4 linked regions of the Homo sapiens genome follow. The protein of the gene in region 1 purifies or fractionates together with the protein of each later gene. This does not show direct contact. Each region holds a gene or a part of one and is shown on either strand. Other genes may lie near its edges. The genes, in order: OASL, DHX57, REXO4 and DDX50.

Region 1 (8,080 bases):
AAAAGAAAAAGAAATATAAGCCTGGCATTGCCAAGTTTTCTGACTAGCCAAGATAAAAAATATTTGCACAATGTTGTGTGTGTTTGTTTTGTTTTTTGAGACAGGGCCTTGCCCTGTCACCTCAGGCTGCAGTGCAGTGGTGCAATCTTAACTCACTGCGCCTTGACCTCCCAAGCTGAAGCGATCCTCCCGCCTCAGTTTCCTGAGTAGCTGGGACCACAGGTGCGTGCCACCACATCTGGCTAAGTTTTGTTCTTTTTTTTTTTTTTTTTTTTCAGATGGAATCTCACTCTGTTGCCAGGCTAGAGTGCAGTGGCACGATCTTGGCTCACTGCAACCTCCGCCTCCCAGGTTCAAGCGATTCTCCTGCCTCAGCCTCCCTAGTAGCTGGGACTACAGGCACATGCCACCACACCCAGCTAATTTTTGTATTTTTAGTAGAGATGAGGTTTTACCATGTTGGCCAGGATGGTTTCGATCTCTTGACCTCGTGATCTGCCCACCTCGGCCTCCCAAAGTGCTGGGATTACAGATGTGAGCCACCGCACCTGGCCAAGTTTTGTATTTTTAGTAGAGACGGGGTTTCACCATGTTGCCTAGGCTGGTCTTGAACTGTTGGGCTCAAGGGATCCACCCGCCTCAGCCCCTCAAAGTGCTGTGATTACAGGCGTGCGCCACTGCCCCCAGCCTACAATGGCTTTTATATTCAGGAAAAATCCAGAGGCGTATATTTTCCAGCCCATGGGTGGGCCTCCTCATTTGGCCAGCGGGTCCCCCCGTTTATACTCTATGTACCTTACTGGAGCCTCTGATTCTGCTTCTGCCTTCTGCTCCAAGCAGTTCAGTCTCCTGTCCTGTACACATCTTGCTCATCCCAGCCTCCCATCCTTTACCCCTCATCATCCTTTGTCCTCTGTTCTGAGTGTCTATATCTCCCCCCGGCCTTTAGGGCTCATTTCAACTCCTAACTTTTTAAAGGAATCTTCTCTGGTGACTTCAGTTAACATTTATTCTGCTTCCAGACCCCCAGAGCCCCTGGTTCTGCTGCCTCTTAGCAGAGTGCCCTTAGTTAATTAACCTCTCTGAGCCTCAGTTTTCTCTTCTGTAAAATGGCAATAATAGTAATGATGATAATAATAATAAAGATAGTGATAACACTCGACCTTCTTACTTTACAGAATTGCTTATGAGGATCAACTGAGACAGACCTTGGACAAGAGCTTTGCACACTAGAAAGTGTGATGTTAATAAAATAGATTTTTGTGATCTCTGCCTATACTATAGGTTTGGCATCATATAATAATATGACTTAGTATTTTTTGTTTGTTTGTTTGTTTTCAGAGTATCTTGTCTTCTCTGGTAATTCTAGCAGTTTTGTGTAAGTTTGTTTCATGGATTTGCTTCCTGACAACATAGGGTGAGTTCTCTGAGAGTGAGGGTGGTGTCTTTTTTTTTTCTTTTTTTCTTTTTTTTTTGAGGCAGAGTTTCCCTCTTGCTGTCCAGGCTGGAGTGCAATGGCACGATCTCAGCTCACTGCAGCCCCCAGCTCCCGGGTTCAAGCGATTCACCTGCCTCTGCCTCCGGAGTAGCAGGGATTATAGGCACCTGCCACCACGCCCGCCTAATTTTGTATTTTTTTAGTAGAGATGGGTTTTTTCCATGTTGGCCGGGCTGGTCTTGAACTCCTGACCTCAAGTGATCCACCTGTCTTGGCCTCCCAAAGTGCTGGGATTACAGGCGTGAACCACCGCACCTGGCCGAGCGTCGTGGTCATGTCTTATTTCTGTGCCTGTGTTGTCCCCCAGCCCACATCCCCTACCCCATCCCTGAGAACAGCACTGGCACAGAATGGCTGATTGAGCTGACTTGGCTGGACCCAACTCACGCAAAGAATGATCAGGAACACAGAACTGATTCTCCAGTAAATTATGGGAAAAAGAAAGGAAAGGAGAACAAGAATTTGAAGGTAAGAAACCCAAGGCTCTGAGAGCCAAAGAATTTGTCCAAGTTCACGGAGCCCATGGGTGGTGCAGCTGGCCCTTAAACGGTGACTCTAAAGTTCTGTTCTCCATCAACACAGAACTGAATGAGTAAATACTGAGTAGTTTATCTGTCGTTCTGACCTTCAAGCCCTTGACAGCCCAGAGAGGAGCCATTACCTTCACGTTCCAGCTGGAGATGGGGTTCTCCCTGTTGTCATAGCAACAGTCCTGTTTCAGGCACTGGGAGGCCCTCTGAGCAACGATGTCCCATCTGTACCCTTCTGCCACGTTGAGGGTGGGGTCGGCCGGATCCAGGATGATGGGCCTGTAACACAGGAAAAGGGTGCCCAGGCTCATAATGGTTTGAAGGCCTTCAAGCCAGAAAAAAACCTTCTCGGCAATTATTTCGTCCAGCCACTGAGAATTGTGATATCCACATCCCGGGGATGTTCAAGAGGGCCCCAAAACACCGCAGGAGAGTAACAGGATGGAGACAATGCTATTTCCAAGAATTCCTATCTGGGCCAGGCACAGTGGCTCACGCCTGTAATCCCAGCACTTTGGGAGGCTGAGGCGGGAGGATCACTTGAGGTCAGGAGTTCAAGACCAGCCTGGCCAACGTGGTGAAACCCTGTCTCTACTAAAAATACAAAAAATTAGCCAGGTGTGGTGGTACGCACCTGTCATCCCAGTTACTCAGAAGGCTGAGGCAGGAGCATTGCTTGAACCCAGGAGGTGGAGGTTGCAGTGAGCCAAGATCATGCCACCACCCTCCAGCCTGGGTGACCGAGTGAGACTGTCTCAAAAAAAAAAAAATTCTTCTTCTTTGGGATAGTGCCTTAAGTGTTTGCAAGGAATTTAGGGGGAGAATGAGGCCCCAAGAGGCATGCTGGAGTAATAACAGATGCCCTTTCAGGCAGGGGGGGCCCTGTACCTTCGGAGCAGGTTTTGCAAGTTTAAGTTTAAGGTTAGAGCTGCTGAATTACTTTGGATAGTAGAAACACCACTGCCACCAACTACTGACATTTATTGAAGCACAAGGCCAAATCCTATGCAGATTAACCTATTTTAATCTTACAGCAATTCTATAAGGTAGGGACTGTTATTTTTATTGTTTATTGTTGTGGTTGTCCCCTTTTTACAGACCTCCCTAAGTTCCTTTTTTTTTTTTTTTTTTTTTTTTTGAGACAGAGTCTCGCTCTGTCGCCCAGGCTGAAGGGCAGTGGTGCAATCTCGGCTCACTGCAACTTCCACCTCCCGGGTTCAGCCAATTCTCTGCCTCGGCCTCCTGAGTAGCTGGGATTACAGGTACCCGCCACCACGCCCAGCTAATTTTTGTATTTTTAGTAGAGATGGGGTTTCACCATCTTGGCCAGGCTGGTCTTGAACTCCTGACCTCGTGATCCACCTGCCTTGGCCTCCCAAAGTGCTGGGATTACAGGCATGAGCCACCGGTGCCCGGCCTAGATTGCCCTAAGTTCTTACAGCCAGTAGATGGGGGCTCTTACCCATCTACCTCCTCAACAGAGCAGAGGTTGGGCTGCCCCCAAAAGTCTCTCCTTTCTATAAATATTGAATAAATATTTTAAAGAATATTGGCTTGAAGGGGATCTTGGGCTTGCTTATTAACTTGGGGTGACTGCAAGTCCATGATTAACACCAGCTCTTTGAGTGGGGCGCAGTGGCTCACGCCTATAATCCCAGCATTTTGTGGGGCCGAGGTGGGCAGATCACTTGAGGTCAGGAGTTCAAGACCAGGCTGGCCAACATGGTGAAACCGTGTCTCTACTAAAAATACAAAAATTAGGGCATGGCGGCAGGCGCCTGTAGTCCCAGTTACTTGGGTGGCTGAGGTGGGAGGATAGCTTGAACCCAGGAGGTGGTGGTTGCAGTGAGCCAAGATCGTGCCACTGAACTCCAGCCTAGGTGACAGAGCAAGACTCCATTAAAAAAAAAAAAACAAAACCCAAAAACAAACAAAAAAAACCCAGCCCTTTGTACTCCAGGGCTTGGGAGGGAGCTGCGACTTCATCTGTGTAATCGAATGTGACACAGGCTACTGGAATGAACTGGACTTTGGGCTCCAGGCTGGCTCCTCCCAACCCTGACTGCTCCCTAAAACAGTCCTGCCTGAAAGTGCCAGGCTGTCCTATGGGGTGGGGTCACTGATCTAAAGTGGCTCATTCTGTTGGCTGGCAGGTGACCCAACACATGGGGTCTGTGTCCCGTGACCAGGAATCAGACTGGTTCTCTCTGGGGTTTGGACATGGGGATGATGGAGATCCCTTATACCTGGGAGGCAGAGGGGAGCCGGACAGGTGTGGAGAGAGAAGCAGAGGCTGAGGGGAAAAGTGCTGTAGTTCATGAGAGAGAGTGACAGAGAGAGAGAGGGAGTCTCAGGTCCTGATGCTTTCTCGATTTTTCTGGCCATGGTTATAATAAATCCTCTTTTCATGAGCAGACCTGGCTTTTCTTCCTTACAAAAGAGACCCAATACTACATAACAGAACACTAAATACTGTGATGTTGCTTACACAGGCCCAGAGCTTCTAACACAGAGAGTTGTCTGGGTTGGGCTTCCCCTGAAGCAGATCCCCAGATAAGGATTTGGCTTATTTGGAAAGTGATCCCAGGAAGCACAAATAAGGGAGTGAGACAGTGAGACAGATAAGGGAAGGCAGACAACAAAGAGTGGGTATTGAAGTAATTACTACTGTGGTCCACTGGAGGCGATCTTTAGGAAAGAGTATGGAATGGGGCCCAGTGCGGTGGCTCACGCCTGTAAGCCCAGTACTTTGGGAGGCCAAGGCAGGCGCATCACCTGAGGTCAGGAGTTTGAGACCAGCCTGGCCAACATGGCAAAGCACTGTCTCTACAAAAATACAAAAATCAGCTGGGTGTGGGTTGTAGGCGCCTGTAATCTCAGCTACTCAGAAGCCTGAGGGAGGGGAATCACTCGAACCCAGGAGGCAGAGGTTGCAATGAGTGGAGATTGCGCCACTGCACTCCACCCTGGGTGACAGAGCAAAACTCTGTCTTAAAAAAAAAAAAAAAAAGTTACGCAATGAGACCCAGATTCCTTCCATCTTTTGGGTGAGGGAGCTGTGGTATTTATCCACCAACTCCCACCAGATCTGGTGGAGGGCTCTTCTCAGAGTGGGTCTGCTGGCAAAGGGATGCAGGTGCTGACAGCTGGAAGTGGAACCAACCTTCCCTAGAACGGTAAAGGCCGAGAGGATATGAATGGGACGCTGACAGCACATGCTCCAATATAAGCATTTACTCAGCATCTGCCAGATGCTAGATATTGTGGATCCTTAACACAGATTTTCTCCAACCCTTACATCAATCCTATGTCGTAGGTTCCAGTTTACTCCTGTCTTATGGATAAGGGATTGAGGCTCATAGCAGTAGGAAAATGGCTGAGCTGGGATTTAAACTTGAGTCTCCAAGATTCTTTCCATTTTCCCATGCTAGCTCCTACAAAGCACTGAAATGGTCTTCAGAGAGCAAGAAGGCCAAGCTAAGGTGGAGGGTGGCTTAGGAAACAAGGAACAGGCTTCTACCCGCCCCATGGCCCCCCAGTGACTTTGATAAGCCACCAACTTGAGATGCCAGCTGTGTTGGTGTGGGAGGTCGATGCTCAACTATGGTGGCAGCCTTACTGCTTAATACAGCCAATCCATAAAACTCTATGCCACGTTACACTAGCCCGTCTCTCTTTTTTTCTGTAAGATTTGGTGGGCAAACAGTGGTCCAGTACCTCTCTTTTTTGAGCTGTTTTCTGACACAATCCTCAATGATTGCATTGTGGAGTGTGTAGTACTTGGTCCAGTAGATACAGATGACTTCATACTCCAGGAGCAGGTCCATCACAGTGGTGAAGCCTTCGTCCAACATGAAATTCTCGTCTTCTTCAGTACCCATTTCCCAGGCATAGATGGTTAGAAGTTCAAGAGCATAGAGAGGGGGCAGATTGGCTCTGGGGGACCTGGCTTTCACATACTGTTGAAAGAGATGGGAAGACAGAGAGAGAGAGACCCTAAGATTCTGTGTAAGGATGGCGTTGGACCAGAAGCTGAGAAATCCAAGTTCTAGTCCTGGCTCTGCTGCCTACTGGCTGTGTGACCTTGGCCATGTCACATTCCATCTCTAGACATAGGTTTCACCATTTTAGAATTAAAGGGCTGAGTTAGTCCATTGGGCTTCAATATATGCTCAACAGATGTAACTCCTGGAATGAACTTATGAACAGGTATGAGCAGATTGCGCTCGGTCACAAACATTCTAGCCTAAGCAGTCCCATTTAAATCTATTTTAATGTATTGAGCTGCTGAGAAATGTTTCTTAAAAGAAAGGAAAGGTTTCCTTAGATAGAGGGAAAAAATGGTAATAGGTGAGATTCTGTAGTGAAGATTGGGGTTGCCTCTCTAGCAGACATTCTTTCCTTCCCCATTGCATAGTAGCCATGATGTTTGGAAGGGGTTGACCCCCACCCGCAGCTCCAGGATGGGCCCTGACTGGCACAGTCCTATCAGCATAAACCTTTCCCCCTTGCAAGTGATTGCTTCAAGAGAAGGCATGCGATCTAAGTTGGCTCAACTAGAGTAAAGCCTAGTTCTTTTGTTCAGTGGTTGAAAGAAGAGAAGTCCTCCCATGTGTGAATATGAGGGCAGGAATAGTTGTGGCCATTTTGCCACCAAGAGGGAAACAAGCCAAAGGACCAAGCTGACATATAGAGGAATGAGAAGCTGAGAGAATTCCAGAGAAACAGAGCCAGTGCCCTCACCAGTGCCTGAAACCCGCCCCCCCCGCCCGCCCCCCCTACTGTTTAGGGGTTTTCCTACATAAGCTGATAATTCCCTTTATTGTTTAAGCCAGTTTGAGTTGGTTTTTGTGTTTTTCTCTTACTTGCAAAAGGAAGCATCTTAACTGACAGTGGTCACTTCCTGTGTTAAGAATCTCACTGAGGCCGGGCGCAGTGCCTCCCGCCCGTAATCCCAGCACCTTGGGAGGCCGAGGCGGGTGGATCACTTGAGGCCAGGAGTTCGAGACCAGCTTGGCCAACATGGTGAAACCCCGTCTCTACTAAAAATACAAAAATTAGCCAGGTGTGGTGGCAGGTGCCTGTAATCCCAGCTACTTGGGAGGCTGAGGCGGGAGAATCGCTTGAACCCAGGAGGAGGAGGTTGCAGTGAACCAAGATCATGCCACTGCACTCCAGCCTGGGCAAGAGTGAGAACTTGTCTCAGAAAAAAAAAAAAAAAAAAAAAAAGAATTTCACTGATACATTGATATTTAGCCAGAAAGTGAAAAATTTTGGTCAAATATTCAGTAGTTTGATTTGTGGAAGTAAAACTGACATATTTTCCTATGGCCATCATATATGAATATTAGCTCCCATCCCAAAGTCAGAGGAGAAAAAAAAAAGCTATAACACTTTGGCCTTGAAACAAACACAGAATCATCTTGTATAATTCTCATCTCCCAAATAAATGAAACCTTGGGCCTTTCCTATAGGTCACTGACTTACTAACAAAAAAACTTTATCCTTGACCTTAGAAATTCAATTTTGAATTAAAATGTATTTATAAGGCTGGGCTCAGTGGCTCACGCCTGTAATCCCAGCACTTTGGGAGGCCAAGGCAGGTGGATCACAAGGTCAGGAGATCGAGACCATCCTGGCTAACACGGTGAAACCCCGTCTCTACTAAAAATATAAAAAATTAGCTGTGCATGGTGGCGGGCACCTGTAGTCCCAGCTACTCGGGAGGTTGAGGCAGGAGAATGGCATGAACCCGGGAGGCGGAGCTTGCAGTGAGCTGAGATTGCGCCACTGCATTCCAGCCTGGGCGACAGAGCAAGACTCTGTCTCAAAAAAAAAAAAATTATAAGTTAATTAATTTGTTTTGTAACTTTTTGCAAATTCATCCTTAACACTCAATTTTGTAAACCATAACTAATAACATTATAATTTTGTTAGAAATTTAAACTCATGGTAATATAACTTATTTTCTTCAATATTAGTGAAATGTTACATTCTTAAAACTTAGATGATATATAAAATGTAGGATGCCTGTAATCTGTAAGATGTAAGC
Region 2 (8,080 bases), on another chromosome or scaffold:
CCCCAAAAGAAACCCTGTACCCATGTACCCATAGCAGTCTCTCCTCATTTTCCCCTTCCCCCAGCCCCTCATAACCACAAATCTGCTGTCTATCTCTATGGATTTGCCTACTCTGGACATTTCATAGAAATGGAATTACACAATATGCAGCTTTTTGAGATGGGCTTCTTTCACTTAGCTAATGTGTTCAAGGTTCATCCGTGTTCTAGCACATATCACTACATCATTCCTTTTTATTAGTGAATAATATTCTATTATGTGGACATACCACATTTTGTTCATTGATTCATCATTTGATAGATATTTGTGTTGTTTTACGTTGTGGGATTTGGGGACACTTGCGTACAGTTGAAACATTCACTGCTAATTCTTTTAATGCTAATTACTTTGTTTGTGCTTGATAAAAGTTTATTTGAGGATGCATTTTAAGTTCTTTAGAAATAGAAATACTAGAAATGAATGAACTTACTTTATTCAAGTTTTCACTTTTTCTCCATTTTGACTTTTTGTTGTTGATACTCTGTTAGACAGCGACTTTCCCCTTTTGTTAAAGAAAGGGCTCCATACTGAAATGTTTTCTTTTATTTCCTTCAAGTTGAAAAAGCATCAGAATCTGAGGAGTCAGATGAGGATGACGGTCCTGCACCTGTTATAGTAGAGAATGAAAGCTATGTGAACCTTAAGAAAAAGATTTCCAAAAGATATGACTGGCAGGCAAAGTCAGTACATGCTGAAAATGGTAAAATCTGCAAGCAGTTCCGAATGAAACAGGTAGGGTATGCTGAGAGAATGAGTAACGTTGCCTCCCTAATATCTGGATGATGGGATTAGGAATTAGGGAGCTTTGGCTACCCTCCTTAAAATTCTTCTGGTTCTTTTTCTCCCTGAGTGGTCAAAGTTTCTACAGGCCACAGCAAACTTAAGTGCATATGCTAGATGGTTTTGGAAAATCCTATAGCTGGTACATAGCAAACACACACATATATGCCAAATAGTCTCAGAGTCATGTGCCTTTGGTACTGTGACAGACAATCTGGTATGTAAAAGGAATATCAATACTGTGGTTTACTGGCCGGGCACGGTGGCTCACACCTGTAATCCCAGCACTTTGGGATGCCAAGGTAGGCAGATCACCTGAGGTCAGGAGTTCAAGACCACCCTAGCCAACATGGCAAAACCCTGTCTCTACTAAAAATACAAAAATTAGCCGGGCGTGGTGGCAGGTGCCTGTAATCCCAGCCACTTGGGAGGCTGAGGCACAAGAATTGCTTGAACTTTGGTGGTGCAGGTTCCAGTGAGCCATGATTGCACCACTGTACTCCAGCCTGGGCAACAGAGCAAGACTCTGTCTCAAAAACAAAACAAAACAAAATAAAAACAAATACTGTGGTTTAGAGCCAGGCGGGCGTGGTAACACATGCCTGTAGTCTCAGCTACTTGGAAGGCTGAGGCAGGAGGATCACTTGAGACAATGCCAGCCTGGAAAACATAATGAGTCCCTGTCTCTAAAAACAAAACAAAACAAATACTGCGATTTACCTTAGAAAAAATTAATATATAAAAGGAGAAGGATAAGGAAGGACTTTTACCCTGTTTCAAAGACTCAAAGGATAAATAATGTGCCCAAGATCGCATAGCTAGTAAGTGGTTTAGCCAATTCTGTTTCTAAAGTCCATTTTGTTTTTACCCCATTCACATGAAGATTATTTTAAAAGAATTCATAAGTGAATCCTGAGGGCAAAGTTAGAGATAGGACAGAGGCAAGTTGCTTAACCAATATGGGAATTGGATTAAATGCTCTCTAGGCCCTCCAGTTCTAAAGTTCTGTGAGTCTGATTTTTGACACCATGTAACACCATCACATATGTAGTACAATACCCAAAGAACATCACAATGTATATAAATTGCACTGTAGGTAAGATGATAGAAACAAAAAATTAGATATTCAATTTGATCAGTGTGATAAGTTTATGATAAAATTATATGTAGGAAATAGCAAGTTCCTGTAAATTTATTACAGTATTCAAAAGTATAGCCAGAGTTTTAACAAACAAGGCAATTTTTATAGCATTGGCCATTAAATATGAAATTGATTTATATAGTTGTAGTGACTGCCCAAAAATAACCCTTTAGTGAGTGCTTTTCTATTATTGATTTAGGTAAAAATCTGATATTGCTTAGAGCTACGCTGTCTGATATGGTAGCCCCTACCCATGTTTGGCTGTTTATATTAATTAATTAAAATTAAAAATTCAGTTCCTCAGTAACACTATTCTTCACATTTCAGGTGCTCAATAGCCACATGTAGCCAGGTGTTGCTGTATTGGACAGCACAGGTATAGAACATTTCCATCAACACGGAAAGTTCTATTGGACAGTACTGGTATAGAGACTCTTGTTGGGAAGAACTGGATATGTGCTAAGCAAGAGGGCTTTATTTCACCCAGAAAATCTTTCGGTTTATTCAGATGTTGGAAAACTAATGTACAGATTCCACAACTCATTCTGGCTGATTCTCTGAGCAGCATTCTGAATAAAGTCTTCTACATCCAATCCCAACAAATCCAACAAAGGATCACTCAAGGCCAGGAGTGCAAGACCATCCAGGGCAACATAACAAGACTCTGTCTCTATAATTAAAAAAAAAAAAAAGCTGTAATCCCAGCACTTTGGGAGACCAAGGCAGGTGGATTCTTGAGCACAGGAGTTTGAGGCCAGCCTGGGCAACATGGTGAAGTCCTGTCTCTACAAAAAAATACAAAAAGCCGGGTATAGTGGCACACACCTGTAGTCCCAGCTACTTGGGAGCTTGAGGCGGGAGGATCGCTAGAGCCTGGGAAGTGCAGATTGGAGTGAGCCGTGATCGCACCACTGCACTCCAGCCTGGCAACAGAGTGAGACCCTGTCTCAAAAAAAAAAAAAAAAAAAGAAAAAGTAACCCAACTGATATCTTATCTTTGATTTTATTAGGCTTCCAGACAGTTCCAGTCCATTCTGCAAGAGAGGCAATCACTCCCTGCTTGGGAAGAAAGAGAAACCATTCTTAACTTATTGCGTAAGCACCAGGTGGTTGTCATAAGTGGTATGACTGGGTAAGAATGCAGTTTATTCATCTGTAGCTTTCATCTATAAATATTATATGCACCCTGGTTACCATAACCAGTTGAACTTGTTAAAAACTGTAGCTGGATTTATAGATATTATATACATCTGCCTTGAGACATAAGGCAAAAAAATCCAGCTGAAGACTTTTAACAAGGCTCATGTTTAAATTTAAAGGATAGTTCTAGAACATTTAGCTTGAGAGCTTTTTATCTTCTGAATTTATTCTGATTTCCTGTCACGCAGGCTGGAGTGCAGTGGCATGATCTCGGCTCACTGCAACCTTTGCCTCCTGGGTTCAAGTGATTCTCATGCCTCAGCCATCCGAGTAGCTGAGATGACAGGCGCACCACTGTGGTGCACCACCATACCCAACTAATTTTTGTGTGTTTTTAGTAGAGAGGGGTGTTTTACCATGTTGGCCAGGCTGGTCTCGAACTCCTGGCCTCAAGTGATCCGCCTGCCTCGGTCTCCCAAAGTGCTGGGATTACAGGTGTGAGTCACCACACCCAGCCTTTATTTTTCTTTTAAAAACAACTTAATTATGGTGCGTTATTTTTCCTGCTTTACATTCTCCTATTTAGCAGGGACAAATTGCAGACTTCATTTATTTATTCAAGAGTATACAATTTAATAATTATATTTGTGTCCAGACTCAGTGATATGGTAATAATTCGTACCTTCTAGTTTATCTTTTTAACCTCAGCCTAATCATAGCTAAATTAATACCTATAAAATATTTTGATAATCATAAGCTAATACTCCTTTTCTTTGGGGTTCATGTGTAGAGTTTACGTTCCTAGAAGCATTTACAGACCTTAATTTAATGTCTGTTCAATAGTCCCAATTTTACAAATGTTACTAAACTATTATTTGATTGTCCTTTTGATTGGAGTGCAAATTCCTAGAATTTCCCACCTCTTGGTAATAAGTCAGGAGGTTGTTTTAGAAAATACCTGAAACTGAACAACTTTTATTCTAATTAGCTTTATCACTTTTCTCATTCCATATGATTGCTTCTTTAGTTAACTAGCCCTTGAAAACTTCATTTTAGGACTTATTTGTTTTAATGTACAGATGTGGGAAAACCACACAAATTCCGCAGTTTATTCTGGATGATTCTCTGAATGGACCACCTGAGAAGGTAGCCAACATCATCTGTACCCAACCCCGACGAATCTCTGCAATCTCTGTTGCTGAACGCGTTGCTAAAGAAAGAGCAGAGAGGGTGGGTCTGACCGTGGGATACCAGATTCGGTTAGAAAGTGTCAAGGTTTGTATGCTCTGCTTATTTCCTGGTAACAGAAATTTATGGTTTTTAGGTATAAAAAGTTTTGGGGGTTAGGAGATTCATGGGCAATTTGGGATATATACTTTCAGGTTATTTTTAAATTAATGATTACCTTTGGTAATCATTTATTTAAATATTTAGAAATATTTAGAAATATTTTGGTATAAGAACTCTTATGGCCAGGCGCGGTGGCTCACACCTGTAATCCCAGCACTTTGAGAGGCCAAGGCAGGTGGATCACCTGAGGTCGGGAGTTCGAGACCAGCCTGACCAACATGGAGAAACCCCATCTCTACTAAAAATACAAAAATTAGCCAAGTGTGGTGGCACACGCCTGTAATCCCAGCTACTCGGGAGTCTGAGGCAGGAGAATCCCTTGAACCTGGGAGACGGAAGTTGCAATGAGCCGAGATTGCGCCATTGCACTCCAGCCTGGGCAAAAAGAGCAAAATTCTGTCTCAAAAAAAAAAAAAAAAAAAAAACTCTTATTTGGTTGTACTAAATTTCCTCTGTAAAGCTTTTTATTTTTTATTGGCAGAAGTCATCTAGTAAAGACTGTTTTGCTCTTGAACTTGGGACATAATCCATTTAACCAAATAAGGAGCAGACAGATTGAGAACTGTTTTCATTATTCACTGTTTTTTAATGCTTTTTATGAAAATCTTAACATTGTGATATGAAGTAGAAAGGCTTTTATTACTGTCCCTGGCAAGAAACTATGTTTAGTATGGTTTCCTATTAAATGGAACTGCTGGTGTTTCCAATATTTTTTATCACTATCCATTCAAAATGGCTTTCCAGTAATGTTTCCTTTTTTTGAAAATTTTATTAATGATTTATATTGCCCTTTCATGTGTAAGTCCTCAGCCACCAGACTGTTATACTGCACCACGGGAGTGCTGCTGAGAAGGCTAGAAGGAGATACAGCTCTACAAGGAGTTTCCCATATCATTGTTGATGAAGTTCATGAGAGGACAGAAGAAAGGTAAAACAAAGACTTTCCCAGGGAACACACACTCACCTGAATTGAAGGCATGGCAGAAAAAATTGTTTTCTAGTTCCAATTCAGTTTCATGCAGCTAGTAATGGTAATTTGCCACAAGGAAGGCCTATGTTAGAGAAGAGCAACTGCTTTCTTGATCTCCAGGGTCTGTAACACTAAAAAGGACAGCACATGCTCATCACTTATTAGATGGAGTCATCCTGTTAGGTTAGAAGGTATACTTCACACCATCCTGGGCATTATGCTAAGTTGAATACCGTACTTAGTAGAAATAACAGATGTCATGCATGCTGTGGCTGAATGTATCTTCTTCCTTGTTTATTTGGCCATTCAGTCCTGACATTGATTCATGTATTTATTGAGCCTGCATTAAATGCCAAGTGATATATTAGTTGCTGGGGATACAGTGATGAACAAGCATGTATGGCTCCCCCTCATCTCTTACAGTCCAGTAGAAAAAACAAATAATGAACAAGTAAACAAGCAAATGATTGTAAATTGGAATAAGCACTATGAAGGAATAAACGGCATGCTGTGTTTGGAGGGAGAGACCCATAGATGCTCAAAGATCATATCTCTGTAAGATGACAATTTAAATTCAAAACTGAAGTATGGCCGGGCGCAATGGCTCACACCCATAATCCCTGCACTTTGGGAGGCCAAGGTGGGAGGATCGCTTGAGCTCAGGAGTTGGAGCCCCACCTGGGCAACATAGTGAGACCATGTTTCCACGAAAAGTAAAAAAAACAAAACAAAACAAAAAATAGCCAGTAGTCATTCTACTGGGGATACAGAAAAAAAAAAAAAAAAATTAGCCAGGCGTGATGCCTCACACCTAAGGTCCCAGCTACTCAGGAGGCTGAGGCAGGAGAATCAATTGAGCCCCCAGGAGGTTGAGGCTGCAGTGAGCTGTGATAGCACCACTGCACTCCACCCTGGTCAAGAAAGCAAGACCCTGTCTCAAAAGAAAAGAAAAGAAAAGAAAAGAAAACTGAAATATGAGAAGGAATCCCAGGTGACAAACGGGGGTAAGGAAAGTATGTTTGAAGATTTTGCAGTGGGAAGGGGCTTTGTGAGTCCAGAAACAAGGAAGCCCAGTGCACCTGCTGTGTAGCAGCAAAGGGGAAAGTAGCACAGGGAAGAAGCAGCAGGAGCCAGACCTTCCAGGGCCTTAAGCACCACGAATAATAAAGCATGTGGATTTTATCTTATGAAATTAGAAGTCATTAAAGGGTGAGGCATAAAATAAAAATTCTTGCCAGACACAGTGGTGCATGCTTGTAGTTCCAGCTACTGAGGAGGCTGAGGCAGGAGGATTGCTTAAGTTCAGGAGTGCAAGGCTGTGGTGTGCTATGATTGCACCTGTGAAGAGCCACTTCAGCCTGGGAAATATCATGAGACTCCATCTCTAAAAAAAAAAAAAAAAAAAATTAAAAGTCTGAATATTTTAAGTACTGAGGAGGGCCAGGAAGATGGATGGCATTAATCATAGTTTGTCATGTGGATCATGCCCTAGAGCAGTAAAAGAAAACTAGTGGGAAAAAAGAGAAAGTCCTGTGAAAATTATGAAGTTTTCCCACAAAGTATTGTACCACAATAAATATCTTGAGAAGAAGAAAAAAAGTCTAAGTAAACTTGGTGGACTGATAGGAAAGCAGAAAATAGCTAAAAGCAAAACATTAAAAAAAAAAAAAAAAAAGGATTGGTGGCAGGCGCCTGTAGTCCCAGCTACTCGGGAGGCTGAGGCAGGAGAATCGCTTGAACCTGGGAGGCGGAGGTTGCCGTGAGCCGAGATTGCGCCACTGTACTCCAGGCTGGGCGACAGAGCAAGAAAAAAAAAAAAGGAATTGAACAGAGAAGGCATATAACCAGAAGAACTATTAGAAGAAATAATACATTACTATTATTAGTAAATAAGAAATATGAAGTAATTAGAAACTAAAGAAAGACTTTTAGATAAAAAGAATGAACCAAAAGAAAAAGAAATAATTCCTAGAACAAGACAATAATAAATATTAAATTACTATACAGAAAACATTGGAAATCTCTAAGGGGCAAATAATCTTTTTGTAGAAACTCCAGAAAACAATGGGAAAAAAAATTAATGGTAAATAATGTCATTTTGCCACTGTTGGAAATGAACATCTGAAAGAAGAAATTTTTTTAACAAAATCATTGAACAACTTGGAAGAGGAAGCCAAATAAAACATTCTCTCAGATTAATGGTATTTAAATGATTGATTTATAAAGATAAGTTTAAACTTTTAGGGAAACCTATATCCAGTATAATTTTGAATATGAAGAGTAGCTTTGGATTCTATAACATTTGTACTTCCACAAACTTGAAGAAATGAGAACATAGCACTGGATTTGGTTCCTGGCTAAAATAGGAGAAAGATTTTTATAAAACCTAAGGATCTGTAGAATATGAACGTTAAAAATTCAAAAGATGTTCACATCTGAATAAAGATTAATTACACAGTGGAGAAGGGTGCTTCAAATATTTACAAATACCAGTTTACAAGAAAGGGTATACAAATTACAAGGAAAAGTAGGGGAATATTTGCTAACTCTGACTGAAAAAAGCAAAAACTAATAAAATCTAGGAACAAAAATCAGTAAAAATATTGGCAAGATTAAAGGTTGAATATAGAAAGGTGACAGTTGTGTTAGTTTGAAATTTT
Region 3 (7,931 bases), on another chromosome or scaffold:
TCAGCCATCAGCGACTGTGTCCTGAACACCCAGGCAACATGAAGCCAGCTGTAACTTATGAACACGTCACCTCCAGCTGAACCATTCAGAGAAGGCCACTGACTCCCGGTCCACCCCACGTGGGTGGCCAGCACAGGGTTTATTCTTTTCACTTGTTTTTTTGAGAGTCTTGCTCCGTCACCCAGGCTGGAGGCAGTAGTGCAATCACAGCTCACTGCAGCCTCAACCTCCTGGGATCAAGTGATCCTCCCACCTTGGCCTCCCAAGGAGCTGGGATCACAGGCAACAGCCACCACACCTGGCTCCATCACAGGGTTGAAGTAATCACCAGGCACTGAGCCAAGAGTGCCAACCTCACAATCTCCTTATGATGCCACCATGACTACCACAAGGCACAGAGGACGTCAGAAACTTGCCCCAAACCACCCAACTGGCGAGAAGCAGGGACAGGCCTCATACTTGGGTCTTTCTGGCTTCAGCACGCTTTCCTTCCACACACGTGTACTGGCACCCACTAAATGCTGAGCTCTGCTCAACGCTCGGAAGAAGCAGGCCCTGCCTTATCATGCGCACACTCTAGGGGAAAACAAGTAACAGCGAGTAAACAAAGGAACAGACGACATCAGGGTAAAGTGATGGAGAGACTGCGGTGAGGCCACCAGCCTCCATAAGGAGACAGGCCTTGGTGAAGTCGCTGTGCCTCGGTTCTCAGTGGTGAGGTGGCCCATACTTACTCGGTGGGTGGGGCTGGGGCTGCCTCCTTAGCTTTCCGCTTCTTATGCTCGATGTCCCCTCGTTCTGGAACAATATCACCATTTGTCCTTTCCTTGGTTCCTTTCTTATTGTGCTCTGTTCCACTGGCCTTGGTGCGAGGTACTGGCGCCCTCCTGTCCATCTTGGAACCTGAAGGAACAGAGCCCCTGCTGGCCTCCTGGTCTTTTCCTGCCGGCATCTCCTCTCCCTTCACTTGAGGCGAGGTCTCTTTTTTGTTTTGCTGGATAATTTTGGGCTTCTTTTTGGAACCCATCTGAGAGATGACAAGAGGCTTTTCTGGGGCCTGAGATTTTTGTTTCAGCAGCCACTGGGACCCAAAATAAAATACATGCTGCATTTGAATTTGGAAATTACACACAGCAGATTGAAAAAACTTACGTGTGTATGTATATACACACATATACACCAAACACATCTATACAATTCCCATCCGCATCACTGAAATTCATTTTCAAACGGTTTGGAAAAAGCTCTTTTTCATTCTCATGGGTCACTTGTGGTGAAATGCTGTTTCTTTGCTTATCTTATTATAATGCATTTTGCACCTGCTCCTTCATGCATACAAAATGTCAAACTCATTCTACACCTTGGGTACCTGTTGAGTGGCTGGACACCACAGACCACTTCCCTTTTCAGCTTATCTAGAAAGAATTTTGGAGTTAACTTCCCTCACAGCTTGGGCCAACATCCTGCTACACAGAAATCGCTTTTTTTTTTTTTACAAGATTCCCTGGTTTGCTACTGCTGTGAAGATCTCAGGAAGGTGGGGGGTGTCATAAATGAAAAGAAAAGCTTCTGTCAAACTGGAGTGGCTGAAGAACTGCTAGCAGCCACACACCTTGGCTGTCACCCAAGCAGAGGCTCCTGTAGTCTTAGAGCCCAGCTTCCTCCCTGTGTTCAAATCCCCAGTGGGAGTGGGCGCCACCACAGTGCGATGATGAGGCGGGTGCTACTTACCTGTTCTGTGATAGGTAAAGAACTGAAGGGCTGACTTTCTTGGATGAATTAGAAAACACTCCAAAGTTTCCCTATAGCACACATCCCTTCCATTCACTTATTTTGCTTTTCTTTCTTGGGAGAAGGAAGAAGAGTTGGTGTTCAAGAAATCCCACAGAACCCTGGGGCTGCCCACGGGAATTTGACTGGTCCTGTGTGTTAAGACAGGAATGTCTGCACTGAGATACTGTGCAGAGTATTAGGAGGTTCAAGAAGCGCTCGGGGAGGCTGAGGTGGGAGGATTGCTTGAGGTCAGGAGTTGAAGACCAGCCTGGGCAACAAAGTGAAACCCCATCTGTATTAGTTCATTGTGCACTGCTATAAAGGAATACCTGTGTTTGGTAATTTATAAAGAAAAAACGTTTATGTAGCTCATGGTTTTGCAGGTTGTACAAGAAGCATGGTGCCAGCATCTGCTTCTGGTGAGGCCGAAGGAAGCTTCCCATCATGGTGTAAGGTGAAGGGGGAGCAGGTGTGTTGCGTGGTGAGAGAGCAAGCAAAAAAGGTGCTAGGCTCTTTTTAAACAACCAGCTCTCAAATGAACCAGCAGAGTGAGAACTTACTCGTTACTGAGGGGAGGGCACCAAGTCATTCATGAGGGATCTACCCCCATGACCCAATACCTCCTATGGGCCCCATCTCCACCACTGGGGATCACATTTCTTTTTTAAAAAAACTACTTTTTACTTTTATTTAGAGATGGAATCTCACCATGTTGCCCAGGCTGGACTTGAACTCCTGAGCTCAAGTGATCCTCCTGCCTGGGCCTCCCAAAGTGCTGGGATTACACGTGTGGGCTACTCGGGAGGCTGAGGCAGGAGAATCACTGGAGCCCAGGCAGCAGTGAGCTATGATCCTAACAGGAGGTAGCTCCAAGGGAGCTCCAAGGGATGTGGTAAGAATGTATGAGTGACGCACGTGGAAGAGTGTCTAGGAGAGAGCAGGCAACCTCTACAGAAGTGCAGGTCACTAGGGAGACAGCAGGTACAACACAGCCTTAAAAGCATGGACTCCAGAGTCAGCCACCTGGTTCCCAGCCGCAATCTTAGATGATCTATTTAAACTTTTCCAGCCTATTTCCTCATCTGTACAATAGCGATGATGGAAGTGTCCACCTCACAGTCTTATTGTGGGGATTGCAACACGCATGGCATAGAGCACATGGCAGAGTGCACATTTTTAGGAGCTCAATTAGTATTTACTTCAAGACCGTAAGTGTCGCTAGAACCCCATCACATGTCTGCTATCTGCTTTTCACTTCTACACAGGAATCTTCTTTCTCCCTGTCTTGCTACACAGACCAGTGTGTTCTTTCGTTGTTGTTGTTTGAGATGGAGTCTCGCTCTGTCGCCCAGGCTGGAGTGCAGTGGCGCGATTTCGGCTTACTACTGCCTCTGCCTCCCGGGTTCAAGCGATTCTTCTGCCTCAGGCTCCCCGAGTAGCTGCGACTACCGGCGCGCGCCATCACGCCCGGCTAATATTTTTTGTACTTTTTTAGTAGACACGGGGTTTCACCATGTTGGCCGGGCTGGTCTTGAACTCTTGACCTCAGGGGATCTGCCCGCCTCGGCCTCCCAAAGTGCTGGGATCACAGGCGTGAGGCCCCGCGCCCGGCCTGGTTTCGGGATTTTAAGCTAAATTTCTCTTTGTAAAATCCATTCTAGTTAGTTCATTATGCAAAAGGTACAAGGGTTTATCTTTGCTTTTTTGTACTTGAAATAATTCTTTCATCAATTTCTTTCAAGCAAACAAGTTCGAGACCTCCCTCAACAGGCCACCTTTCTTGTGAAAAGCTGTTTACAAGATTTCGATTCAAATCTGCCTTTACAGGTCTTTTGGGGCTACCCAAGTCTTTCCCTCCGTCGCGTTCTGCGGGAATGAGCTGCGCAGCGCTCCGCCCGGGCCCCCTCAAGCCTCACCTCTTGCAGCGCCTTCCAGTTTTGAGAAAAGTCTTCTGGTGCCTTTGGAGGTCGCACCACAGCACCGGGGCCGCTTGCTGGCTTCTTGCTTACTTCCCGCGCCTTGCTTTTCCAAAACCTTTTTTTCTTCTTGTTTTTCTTCCGAGTGAGCGTCTTGACAGGACCCGGCTTAGCCACGGGGCTGCTCGGGGCGCGCTTGGAGGCGGGGACCTTCGCCTTCCCCATCCTGCTGCCGTCCAGCGCCTGGGCCGGCGGCCACCCGAGACCCCGGCCTCCCCGGGCCCGGCGCCCTGGCAGCACAAGCGCCTGCCCAGGCCAGGCCGAAACACACCCACCGCAGGGACCCCGTCCAGGAAAAGACTCCGGAAGAGACCCCGCACGCGTTGCGCATACCTCAGCACGCACGCTCCAGTCCCCGGAAGCGCTCGTCTCTCCACAACCGGCTGGAAACCGGATCCCTGCCTCTGGTTCCGCGCAGCCTGGGCGGTTCACCCGCACGGGACTTGGGCCGCCGCCTTAGCCAGCGGCATCCGGGGTCATCGACCTCGAGTTTGACTGGGGCAAGCCGAGGACCTCCCCAAGATCCGGGATGGGGATGAGAGATGCGAACGCCGGAAGGGAACTGGGGGGCCGCTGTGTGTGTAGCACCTGGTAGGGCAGCTGAGCTGGGGGCACTGGGCGGTGGGGCTAGTGAGAGCCGGGCTAGGTCGCTCGCCTGCGTCCTGGACTCTCGAGCCTTTCCCGCCTTGGGCTGCTCCTTGCTCAGCCTCACAGCGGCTCATCTTCCACGTACAGTGGGGAAACTGAGGCCCAGGCACCGGGAGGAGTTCCTGCCAGTTCACTCTGTAGCAGGACGAGCCGCAGACAAGAACCCCTCAGACACCGAATTGTAGAAGGAAAGGGCTTTATTTAGTGGGGAGCATCGGCAGACTCACGTCTCCAAAAACCGAGCTCTCTGAGTGAGCAATTCCTGTCCCTTTTAAGGGCTTACAACCCTAAGGGGGTCTGTGTGAGAGGGTCGTGATCGATTGAGCAAGCAGGGGGTACGTGACTGGGGGCTGCATGCACCGGTAATCAGAACGCAACAGAACAGGACAGGGATTTTCACAATGCTTTTCCATACAATGTCTGAAATCTATAGATAACATAACCGGTTAGGTCAAGGATTGATCTTTAACCAGGCCCAGGGCGCGGCGCCGGGCTGTCTGCCTGTGGATTTTATTTCTGCCTTTTAGTTTTTACTTCTTTATTTGGAAGCAGAAATTGGGCATAAGACAATATGAGGGGTGGTCTCCTCCCTTACTTCTGCCGCCTGGGTTCAAGCGATTCTCCTGCCTCAGCCTCCTGAGTAGCTGGGACTATAGGTGCACGCCACCACTCTCTGCCAATTTTTGTATTTTTAGTAGACCTGGGGTTTCGCCACGTTGGCCAGGCTGTCTTGAACTCCTGACCTCCAGTGATCCATCCGCCTCGGCCTCCCAAAGCGCTGGGATTACAGGTGTGAGCCACCGTGCCCGGCCGGGAGTGGGTAGATTTGATGTGCGTGTGTAACAGGCAGAGGTTGATGGAGTAACAGGGAAGTGAGGCTCCTAGGATTTTGGTCTGAGCAATTGGGTGTGGCCATTTATCATCTCAATAAATGTCTGCGGGGAGCAGGGTGAAGTATGGGGGTGGAGCCATGAGCTCCTTTTCACACTTGCTGAGTTTGAACGGGCCGTCAGTCACCAAGGAGAGACGTCTAATCAGCAGCAGGATATAAGATTCCTAAGCTTAGGGAAGGGTCAGTGCTGGAGATGTAATTTGGAAATCGTCAGCACATAATTAGTGTTGAAACATGAACCTGGGTTAGTTCATCCAAAGAGAGAGTACCAATATAGGGAGTGAAGGGTTAAGACCAGATAGCAGGTGCTGGGGGCTCTCCAGGGGCGAAGCAGCAGAGGAGGCTGAGGGGGAGCAGTCAGTGCAGTGGGAGGAGAAGCGGATGTGAGTGGCATCAGAGAATCCAGGGGGAGAATAAACCACATCAGATGCTGCTGAGAGGCTGAGAAGGACGAGGACAGAGAGATGGGAACCAGATATGGCACTGAGATTGTCAGCAAGTCCACCGAAAAGGGTTTTCTTTTTTTTTGTTTGTTTTGAGACGGAGTCTTGCTCTGCTGCCCAGGCTGGAGTGCAGTGGCGTGATATCGGCTCACCACAATCTCCACCTCCCGGGTTCAAGCGATTCTCCTGCCTCAGCCTCCTGGGTAGCTGGAACTACAGGTGCACGCCACCATGCCCAGCTAATTTTTTTTTTTTTTTTGAGACGAAGTTATGCTCTTGTCGCCCAGGCTGGAGTGCAATGGCGCAATCTCGGCTCACCGCAACCTCCACCTCCCGGGTTCAAGTGATTCTTCTGCCTCAGCCTCCCGAGTAGCTGGGATTACAGGCATGTGCCACCACGCCCGGCTAATTTTGTACTTTTAGTAGAGATGGGGTTTCTCCATGTTGGCCAGGCTGGTATGGATCTCCAGACATCAGGTGATCCTCTCGCCTCAGCCTCCCAAAGTGTTGGGATTACAGGCGTGAGCCACCGCACCTAGCCTAATTTTTGTATTTTTGAAAAGAGACGGGGTTTCACTATGCTGGCCAGGCTGATCTCGAACTCCTGACCTCATGATCCGCGTGCCTCGTGATCCACCTGCCTCGGCCTCCCAAAGTGCTGGGATTAAAGGCGTGAGCCACCACACCTGGCCCAGGTTTTCTTTTTAAAAAAGGAAAAAAACTTTGTTCCAGCAGTTTGTAAACCAGGGCAATGCAGCCTTCTGTACAAAGGTGCATTCCAGGGAACAAAGAGAACAAAGAAAGAGGTCGTCTTTTGTAGAGAACTTCCTGCCCAGGTTCCCACTTTGGTCCACTTATGCAAATGAGGAAGGCACACTTGCTTAGTTCTGATTGGTTAATACTTGCTGAGTTCAGATTGGTCGATGCAGGTCACAGTCGATGGGTTGATTCTGGCGGCATAAACAGGAACAGATAGCTGTGAAACCATCCCAGAGTTAAGTGAGAGTGGGGGCTTTCCAGGAACGCAGAATGTGTGTGTGACCCTAGTCAGCAAATGGCTGCTAGGTCCTACTTTGAATTTAGGCCCAGTTAGTAACTTGGGATCCATCAAGAAGGATTGGCTCTTTCAGGGTTCACAAAGTTATTGGTGACCTTTTAAAGATCAATTTCAATGGTATGTGGGAATTGAAGGCAAGGAAGTGGAGATAGCCACTGAAAATAATGTTTCTAAGTTCTTAAAGACAGCCAGAAACAGGGCTATGGCAGGAGGACAGTGTGGGTCAAGGGAAGGTTGTTGATTGTAATCAAGAGACACCAGAGTGTCTGGGCTTGGTGGCTCATGCCTGTAATCCCAGCACTTTGGGAGGCCGAGGCAGTCAGCTCACCTGAGGTCAGGAGTTTGAGACCAGCTTGGCCAACATGGCGAAACCCCACCTCTACTAAAAATACAAAAACTAGCCAGGCGTGATGGCGGGTGCCTGTAATCCCAGCCACAAGGGAGGCTGAGGCAGGAGAATCACTTGAACCTGGGTGGCGGAGGTTGCAGTGAGCCGAGATCGTGCCACTGCACTCCAGCCTGGGTGACACAGCAAGACTCTGTCTCAAAAAACAAACAAAAACCAAAAAGAGACAGGAGAGTCATTCATGCTGATGGAGTGAGCCAGGTACCAGGATCTCGATATCTAAGCATGCCCCCTTCTCCAACAGCCTCCTTACCTTCCTGCATGAAAGCACACCCTTCCCTCCAGTCCCCCATTCCTTTATTCTGCTGTATTTTTCTCCATAACACTTACCACCTTTGAACATACTACATATACAACATGTGTCTGTCTAGCAACTTTGCTGTCTGGCTCTCTTCCCTAGAATTTAAGCTGTGAGAGGCCGAGGCTGCTGTCTGCCTGGCTTGGGGCTGCTTTCCTGGTGTCTAGCACAGAGCCTGGCCTGTTTCAGGGGCTCAGTGAAACATTTGTTGGCTGAAGGAATGAATGAATGGCTCTAGCAGAGGGGCAGAAACTAACGATGCAGGAGGAGAGAGCTGGGAAGGGATCCAGAGCCAGGGCCTGGCAGGAAGTGTAGGTGTGTCCTCCCTGATCGCAGAGGAGGAGAGAGGCTGCACTTTGAGGGGTGGAAAGACAAGGTGAATCCCCCTGCTGGTCATCAGCTTGTGCGGCTCTGTGGGTGTAAAAGAGTGGTTTGGAG
Region 4 (7,000 bases), on another chromosome or scaffold:
AGTGGAGCGATTACGGCTCACTGCAACTTTTACCTCCTGGGTTCAAATGATTCTCCTGCCTTAACCTCTCGAGTAGCTGGGATTACAGGCATGCACCACCATACCTGGCTAATCTTTGTATTTTTAGTAGAGATGAGGTTTCACCATGTTGGCCAGGCTGGTCTTGAACTCCTGACTTCAAGTGATCCACCCACGTCAGCCTCCCAAAGTGCTGGGATTACAGGCATGAGCCACTGAGCCTGGCCTGATCATTGTTATGAACTTTTTGACTTTAATATAGTGGCCAGGAATACTAGGAAGTGTATTTATAATACCAGGAAATTTGCAGCAGAGATGAAGATCTACCTAATATAAATAGGTTCAGTGTCACTAATGCAGCAGAGATGAAGATCTACCTAATATAAATAGGTTCAGTGTCACTAAAAATTACAGACATGTAAATTAAAACAACATTGGGAAATTATTTTTGCCTATTAAATTCACAAAGATTACAATGATTTATAATATACACAAGCTGGGTAGGGTATGTTGAAATAAATACTCATAGAGTATTGAAGAATAAAAGGTACACAACTTTTTTTATAATACAGTTTTTTAAATAATACAGTTTCTGTTAAAATGCTACATGTTCATAATTTTTGACCCAGAAATTCAACTTCTAGATATGTATCCTACTGAAATATACAGATACTGAGGCATCCAGAGATACAAGTACAAAGTTACAAAGTTGTTCATTGCAACATTGTTTGTTTGTTTGTTTTTTTTTTTTTTGAGATGAAGCTTCACTCTTGTCCCCCAGGCTGGAGTGCAATGGCACGATCTCAGCTCACTGCAACCTCCACCTCCCGGGTTCAAGCTATTCTCCTGTCTCAGCCTCCCAAGTAGCTGGAATTACAGGTGCCTGTCACTGCGCCTAGCTAATTTTTTGTATTTTTAGTAGAGACAGAGTTTCACCATGTTGGCCAGGCTGGTCTCAAACTCCTGACCTCGGGTGATCTGCCTGTCTCGGCCTCCCAGAGTGCTGGGATTACAGGTGTGAGCCACCATGCCCGGCCCATTGCAGCATTGTTTCTAAAGGTGAAAATGTGAATACAGCCCAAAAGTTCATCAGTAGGATATTGCTAAAATAGATGCTGGTGCATCCATATGAATAAATTATATACAGTTTAAAAAAATTAAGTAGCATTTTATCTATAGATGTGGATAGCTAAGATACACTAAATTTATCAAGTAGGTTACAAAACCCTACCTATGTAATATCCACGTTATAAATAAATACATAAAGTCATAGTATATGCTAGTGTAATGTGAGTATGTGTGTATTAAAAAAAAAAAGTGGCCGGGTGTGGTGGCTCACGCCTGTAATCCCAGCACTTTGGGAGGCAGAGGCTGGCGGATCACCTGAGGTCAGCGAGTTCAAGACCAGCCTGATCAACATGGTGAAACCCTGTTTCTACTAAAAATACAAAAATTAGCTGGGCATAGTGGCAGGCACCTGTAATCCCAGCTACTCGGGAGGCTGAGGTAGGAGAATCGCTTGAACCTGGGAGGTAGAGGTTGCAGTGAGCCAAGATCGCTCCATTGCACTCCAGCCTGGGCAATAAGAGCAAAACTCTGTCTAAAAAAAAAAAAAAATCTGACAGAATATTTACCAAACTCTTAGCAGTGAATTATTTCTAAGTCACTAGTATTAGGGAAGCTTTTACATTTTATGTTAAATATTTTCTGTCATGTTTGACTTTTTTTTTTTACAGTAAGCATGCATTGTTAAAATCATCAAAGTAAGATTTAAAAACATGCAAAAGGAGCACAGACTAGATGTTGTTGTGCTATCAGTTGCAAGTATGAGCTGTACACTTAATTTTCTCCCCCTTTCTCAAATAGAATGCCCAGTGTTTACATGGGGACATTGCACAGTCACAAAGAGAAATTACACTAAAAGGCTTCAGAGAAGGTAGTTTTAAAGTTTTGGTGGCAACCAATGTGGCTGCCCGTGGTTTGGACATTCCTGAAGTTGACCTGGTGATTCAAAGTTCTCCTCCTCAGGTAGGAAATGGGATTTGATTTGGGAAAAATAAGAGCAATTTTATAAATTCCCATTTAATTTACAACATATTGCTTGGGATGTGAAAAATATGTCATCTCTTCTTGCTCTTAGCCATTTTTTGTTAGTGTGCTATTAAATTTATCAGATTCTGATACTTTTGCAGATGATTAACTCTATTGTTTGTATTTGAAGCATGGAGCAACAAAATCAGGCAGAGAATTACAAAAAGTTGCCATAAAGAAACCTGGGATGAGGTGGATTAAAAGGTTTTAAATCATATTGCCTTTACCCCAAAATCCACACATATAAATTGTTTGGAATGTTGAAAAGGGCAACAGGATTGAAATAAATATATTATTATTAACATTATTATTTGGATTCCGGAATGACTGCAACTTGCTAGATTTTTAAAAAATATTACCTTTTATAATCTTTAGGATGTTGAGTCCTATATCCATCGCTCTGGACGCACAGGTAGAGCTGGACGGACAGGGATTTGTATATGTTTTTATCAACCAAGAGAAAGAGGTCAACTAAGATATGTGGAACAAAAAGCAGTAAGTAGAGTTAAATTATTTCAGGCTTATTGTCTAAATGGTGCCTTAAAAGAGAGCTCTTCTTATATTTATTCTTACAAGTAGGTCTTCATAACTTTTCTCAGTTTAAGCTGCATTTGGCTGTGAAGCCTGTGGAGATCTAAATTTATATTAGCTTCAAGACTTTAATACAGCTTTTATTGTGAAGACAGTGGAGCTGACTTTCTCATCTTTTCCTTGAATTTCTCTCTTCATACTAAAATCAGAAGTGCATTGTGATTTCAGTACTTCTTAGTGTAAATGGGTGACTAAAAGATTGTCTTGGTATAATAGTTAAGATTCTTTTAAGTATGGTACAATAGACAGTTTCTAAAGAAACTGTACATTTTCTGTGGTCTGGATTTTTTGTGGTATTTCACATTTTTTCCTATTTTTATATGTGTTTTTATATGCAATTTCATATACTTTGTAAAATGAGATAGTGTAATAAGGAAAAAAGCTGATAGATTTAAACATCTGTTTTGTTTTGTTTTTTTTTCAAATCAGGCTTGTTTTACAAGTGAAATTCCATGATTGTAACTAAGGGGCAATTCAAAAAATTATTTTTCTCTTTCTGAAATTTGTAATTGATGATTTATGAGAAAAAAAAGATCTTGGCTGGGTGCAGTCACTCACGCCTGTAATCCCAGCACTTTGGGAGGCGGAGATGGGCAGATCACTTGAGGTCAGGAGTTTGAGACCAGCCTGCCCAACATGGTGAAACCCCATCTCTACTAAAAATACCAAAATTAGCTGGGCATGGTGGTAGACACCTGTAATCCCAGCTACTATGGAGGCTGAGGCAGGAGAATTGCTTGAGCCCAGGAGGTGGAGGTTGCAGTGAGCCAAGATCACGCCACTGCACTCCAGCCTGGGCAACAGAGCAAGACTCTGTGTCAAAACAAAAACAAAAACAAAAACAAAAAAGATAAAACTGATCTTTTAATCTGCTAGGGCTATGAAATCTTTAAATGCAAGAAATAGAAATTCAACGAACTATTAAAATATTAATTTAGGAATTAATTGTAAAGACTTCCATTTTTCTTTAATGTAACTCTTTCATTTTCAGGGAATTACTTTTAAACGTGTAGGTGTTCCTTCTACAATGGATTTAGTTAAATCTAAAAGCATGGATGCCATCAGGTATGCTTTCTGAACTTGCTGAATAATTGTTTCTTTTGTATTAGGCTATTCATCTGTAAGCTCTCCCAGTTCAAATAGCAGAAAATTTTACCACCAGTTTTACCAGCAGACATTTAGTTATATTAAAATATAAAACAGTGGCTCATGCCTGTAATTCCAGCACTTTGGGAGGCTGAGGCGGGCAGCTCATGAGGTCAGGAGATTGAGACCATCCTGGCTAACACGGTGAAACCCTATCTCTACTAAAAAAATACAAAAAATTAGCCAGGCGTGGTGGTGGGCGCCTGTAGTCCCAGCTACTTGGGAGGCTGGAGCAGGAGAATGGTGTGAACCTGGGGGGCGGAGCTTGCAGGGAATCGAGAGTGCACCACTGCATTCCAGCCTGGGCGACAGAGCAAGACTCTGTCTCAAAAAAAAAAAAAAAAAAAAAAAAAAAATATATATATATATATATATATATATATATATATAAAATGTGGCTGGGCACTGTGGTGCACGCCTGTAATTCCAGCACTTCGGGAGGCTGAGGTGGGCAGATTGCTTGAGCTTAGGAGTTTGAGACTAGCTTGGCCAACATGGCGAAACCTTGTCTCTACAAAAAATACAAAGATTAGCCAGGAGTGGTGGCGCGTGCACCTGTAGTCCCAGCTACTTGGAAGGCTGAGGTGGGAGGATTGCTTGAGCCCGGGAGGTTGAGGCTGCAGTGAGCCAAGATCGTGCCAGTGCGCTCCAGACTGGGTGACAGAGCAAGGCTCTATCTCAAAAAAAAAAAATTACTCCTTCTTTTTCCCATTTTTCTTCTTATCTTTTATTTTTTCCCTATGTCTTGACCAAGAATACTATTTTTAAACCATAGGTCTCTGGCTTCCGTTTCTTACGCTGCTGTTGATTTTTTCCGACCATCAGCTCAGAGACTGATAGAAGAGAAAGGTGCAGTGGATGCATTGGCTGCAGCTTTAGCCCACATTTCTGGTGCATCAAGCTTTGAACCACGATCTTTGATCACCTCTGATAAGGTAGAAATCTGTGAGAAAATTGTACATGAGTGGGAAAAGGTTAAAATTGAACATAGGAAATATTGTAGTGAATTATTGTGCTTTTTGTGCAGAAAAAAACTGTTTTGCTCTATGAGAAACTGGTCTCCTTATTTTCCTCTACTCCCTAATAAATCCTTTTTTGACAATCACCTCTTCCAAATTTTTCAAACCCACAGAAAAACTGAAAGAATAATGCAGTAACCACATACGATCCACCTAGATTCAACTGTTAAAAGTCTGTATCATGTGCTTTATATCCTTTTTTAGCTCTAATTTGTAATTAAAAAAAAAATGACATGTAATAATTGTACATATTTATAGGGTATGTGGTGATGTTTCAGTACATCCGTACATACCATGTATAGGTATCAGATCAGGATCATTAGCGTATCCATCGTCTAAACATTTATCATTTCTTTGTTTTAGGAACCATTCAATATCTTCCTTCTTGCTTTATAACTTTATAAGTTTTTTTTTTTTTTTTTTTGAGATTGAGTCTTGTTCTGTTACCCAGGCTGGAGTGCAATTACGTGATCTTGGTTCACTGCAACCTCTCCCTCCCGGGTTCAAGCAATTCTCCTGTCTCACCCTCCTGAGTAGCTGGGACTACAGGCGCACGCCACCATGCCTGGCTAATTTTTGTATTTTTAGTAGAGACAGGGTTTCACCATATTGGTCAGGCTGGTCTCAAACTCCTGACCTCAGGTGATCTGCCCTCCTCAGCCTCCCAAAGTGCTGGGATTACAGGCGTGAGCCACCTCACCCGGCCTGTATTTTTTTTCTAAATCATTTGAAAGTAAGTCGAAACACCGTGATATCATCCCTAAATATTTCAACATGCATCCTCTGAGAATAAGGATATTCTGCTACATAACCACAATATAATAAGCTCATCTGTGAAAATTAATGATAGTTCTGTATCATCATCTAATATTTAGTTTATATCCATTTTTTTCTCATTATCCTGAAAATGTCTGTCTGTCTGGGTATTTGGAGAGAAATATAGGAAATGCTCACTTTGCACAGACCTTTGTTAACTGAAACTTGTATCCCAGAACCTACATTTCATTTTGTAAGTTTCCATGGAATCCTGCAAAGTAAGAAATAGACTCTGCACAATTAACACAGTAGCATGCAAAGTAAGTAAGAAATGCCTGTGTGTGTGTGGAGGGGTTGTGTAAGTGTAACACCATCTGAACTGGCCTGCTGCCAGATTCGTATCACATGTCAAAACATACCACACCAGAACCATTGGTGCAGGTAGCTCAGAGATTTTTTACTTATTCAAGTATAAGTGAGGGGAGTTTCTTGGTGAAGAGAATTTTAAATAAGAGTTCTGTTATGTCTGAGTGGAGAGAGTGAGTGAGCGAACCTGGTCCTGGAGACATCTATAAGACTAGAGCCTGCTGGTGGGATTTTCAAATAATAACAAAACAGACTAATTTGGGCAGCACATCCCTGTGATGGGGAGGAGGAAACAAAAAGGGCAGGGCAGGTTCACTTGGATGTGACTTATTTGGTGTAGCACAAATGAATGCTGCTGGGGTATCTGATGGTTTCTACCTGGTAGGTGTTAATAGTTTAGCTAAATGTCATTTTGCTTTGAGTGACTTATTGGGCTCCATTCCGTTTATCCATATGTGTACATATACCTATTTGTATGTATGTTTTTAAAAATTCAGGACCTAGTTAAGTTTTACATGTTACATTTGGTATTATGTCTCTTTAGTCTCTTTTAGTCTGGAACTGTTTTCTCATCTTTTTAATTTTTTTCTGATATTGATTTGGTGAAGAGTCTTGGTCGGTTGTTTGGTAGAATATCTCACTGTCTGGATTTGTCCGAATCTCTTCAAGCATCATTTAACTTTTGCCTTTATCCTCTTTTAAACTGAAAGTAATATCAAAGCTTGACTTTTATATTTAGGTGAAATGTTTTTGGCAAGGGTACTTTATAGTTAATATGTACCTCATATTGCATCACATCAAGAGGCATAAAATGTTAGGTTGTTCCAGTACTAGTAATGCTTAATTTGCATTTGTTTAAGATGGAAACTGCCATATTGTAAAGGTGTATTTTACTCTCTGTAATTAGTAACTTGTGGGGTGATACTTTAGCATTGAGCAGATATCCTATCCCTAGTAACCCACCAAATGCTTAAGACAGTATTTAAAACATATTTCTTTAGAAAATATTGAGA

What was found.
Region 2: the proteins of OASL (region 1) and DHX57 purify together in Homo sapiens (affinity purification with mass spectrometry; 2 studies listed by BioGRID and IntAct, with this or other methods). This does not show direct contact.
Region 3: the proteins of OASL (region 1) and REXO4 purify together in Homo sapiens (co-immunoprecipitation; 2 studies listed by BioGRID and IntAct, with this or other methods). This does not show direct contact.
Region 4: the proteins of OASL (region 1) and DDX50 purify together in Homo sapiens (affinity purification with mass spectrometry; 2 studies listed by BioGRID and IntAct, with this or other methods). This does not show direct contact.

The regions. Positions count from the first base shown.
Region 1 is NC_000012.12:121,021,831-121,029,910, forward strand, and holds part of OASL (2'-5'-oligoadenylate synthase-like protein), read right to left. Parts: intron 5,988-8,080; coding exon 5,746-5,987; intron 2,308-5,745; coding exon 2,160-2,307; intron 1-2,159.
Region 2 is NC_000002.12:38,851,352-38,859,431, reverse strand, and holds part of DHX57 (putative ATP-dependent RNA helicase DHX57), read left to right. Parts: intron 1-595; coding exon 596-771; intron 772-2,970; coding exon 2,971-3,092; intron 3,093-4,179; coding exon 4,180-4,375; intron 4,376-5,253; coding exon 5,254-5,378; intron 5,379-5,466; exon of another isoform or gene 5,467-5,551; intron 5,552-8,080. UniProt on the Homo sapiens protein: Probable ATP-binding RNA helicase.
Region 3 is NC_000009.12:133,413,931-133,421,861, forward strand, and holds the start of REXO4 (RNA exonuclease 4), read right to left. Parts: upstream 4,081-7,931; 5' UTR 3,915-4,080; coding exon 3,690-3,914; exon of another isoform or gene 1,732-3,689; intron 1,082-1,731; coding exon 735-1,081; intron 715-734; exon of another isoform or gene 407-714; intron 1-406.
Region 4 is NC_000010.11:68,932,315-68,939,314, forward strand, and holds part of DDX50 (ATP-dependent RNA helicase DDX50), read left to right. Parts: intron 1-1,884; coding exon 1,885-2,046; intron 2,047-2,484; coding exon 2,485-2,604; intron 2,605-3,691; coding exon 3,692-3,765; intron 3,766-4,621; coding exon 4,622-4,781; intron 4,782-7,000. UniProt on the Homo sapiens protein: ATP-dependent RNA helicase that may play a role in various aspects of RNA metabolism including pre-mRNA splicing or ribosomal RNA production.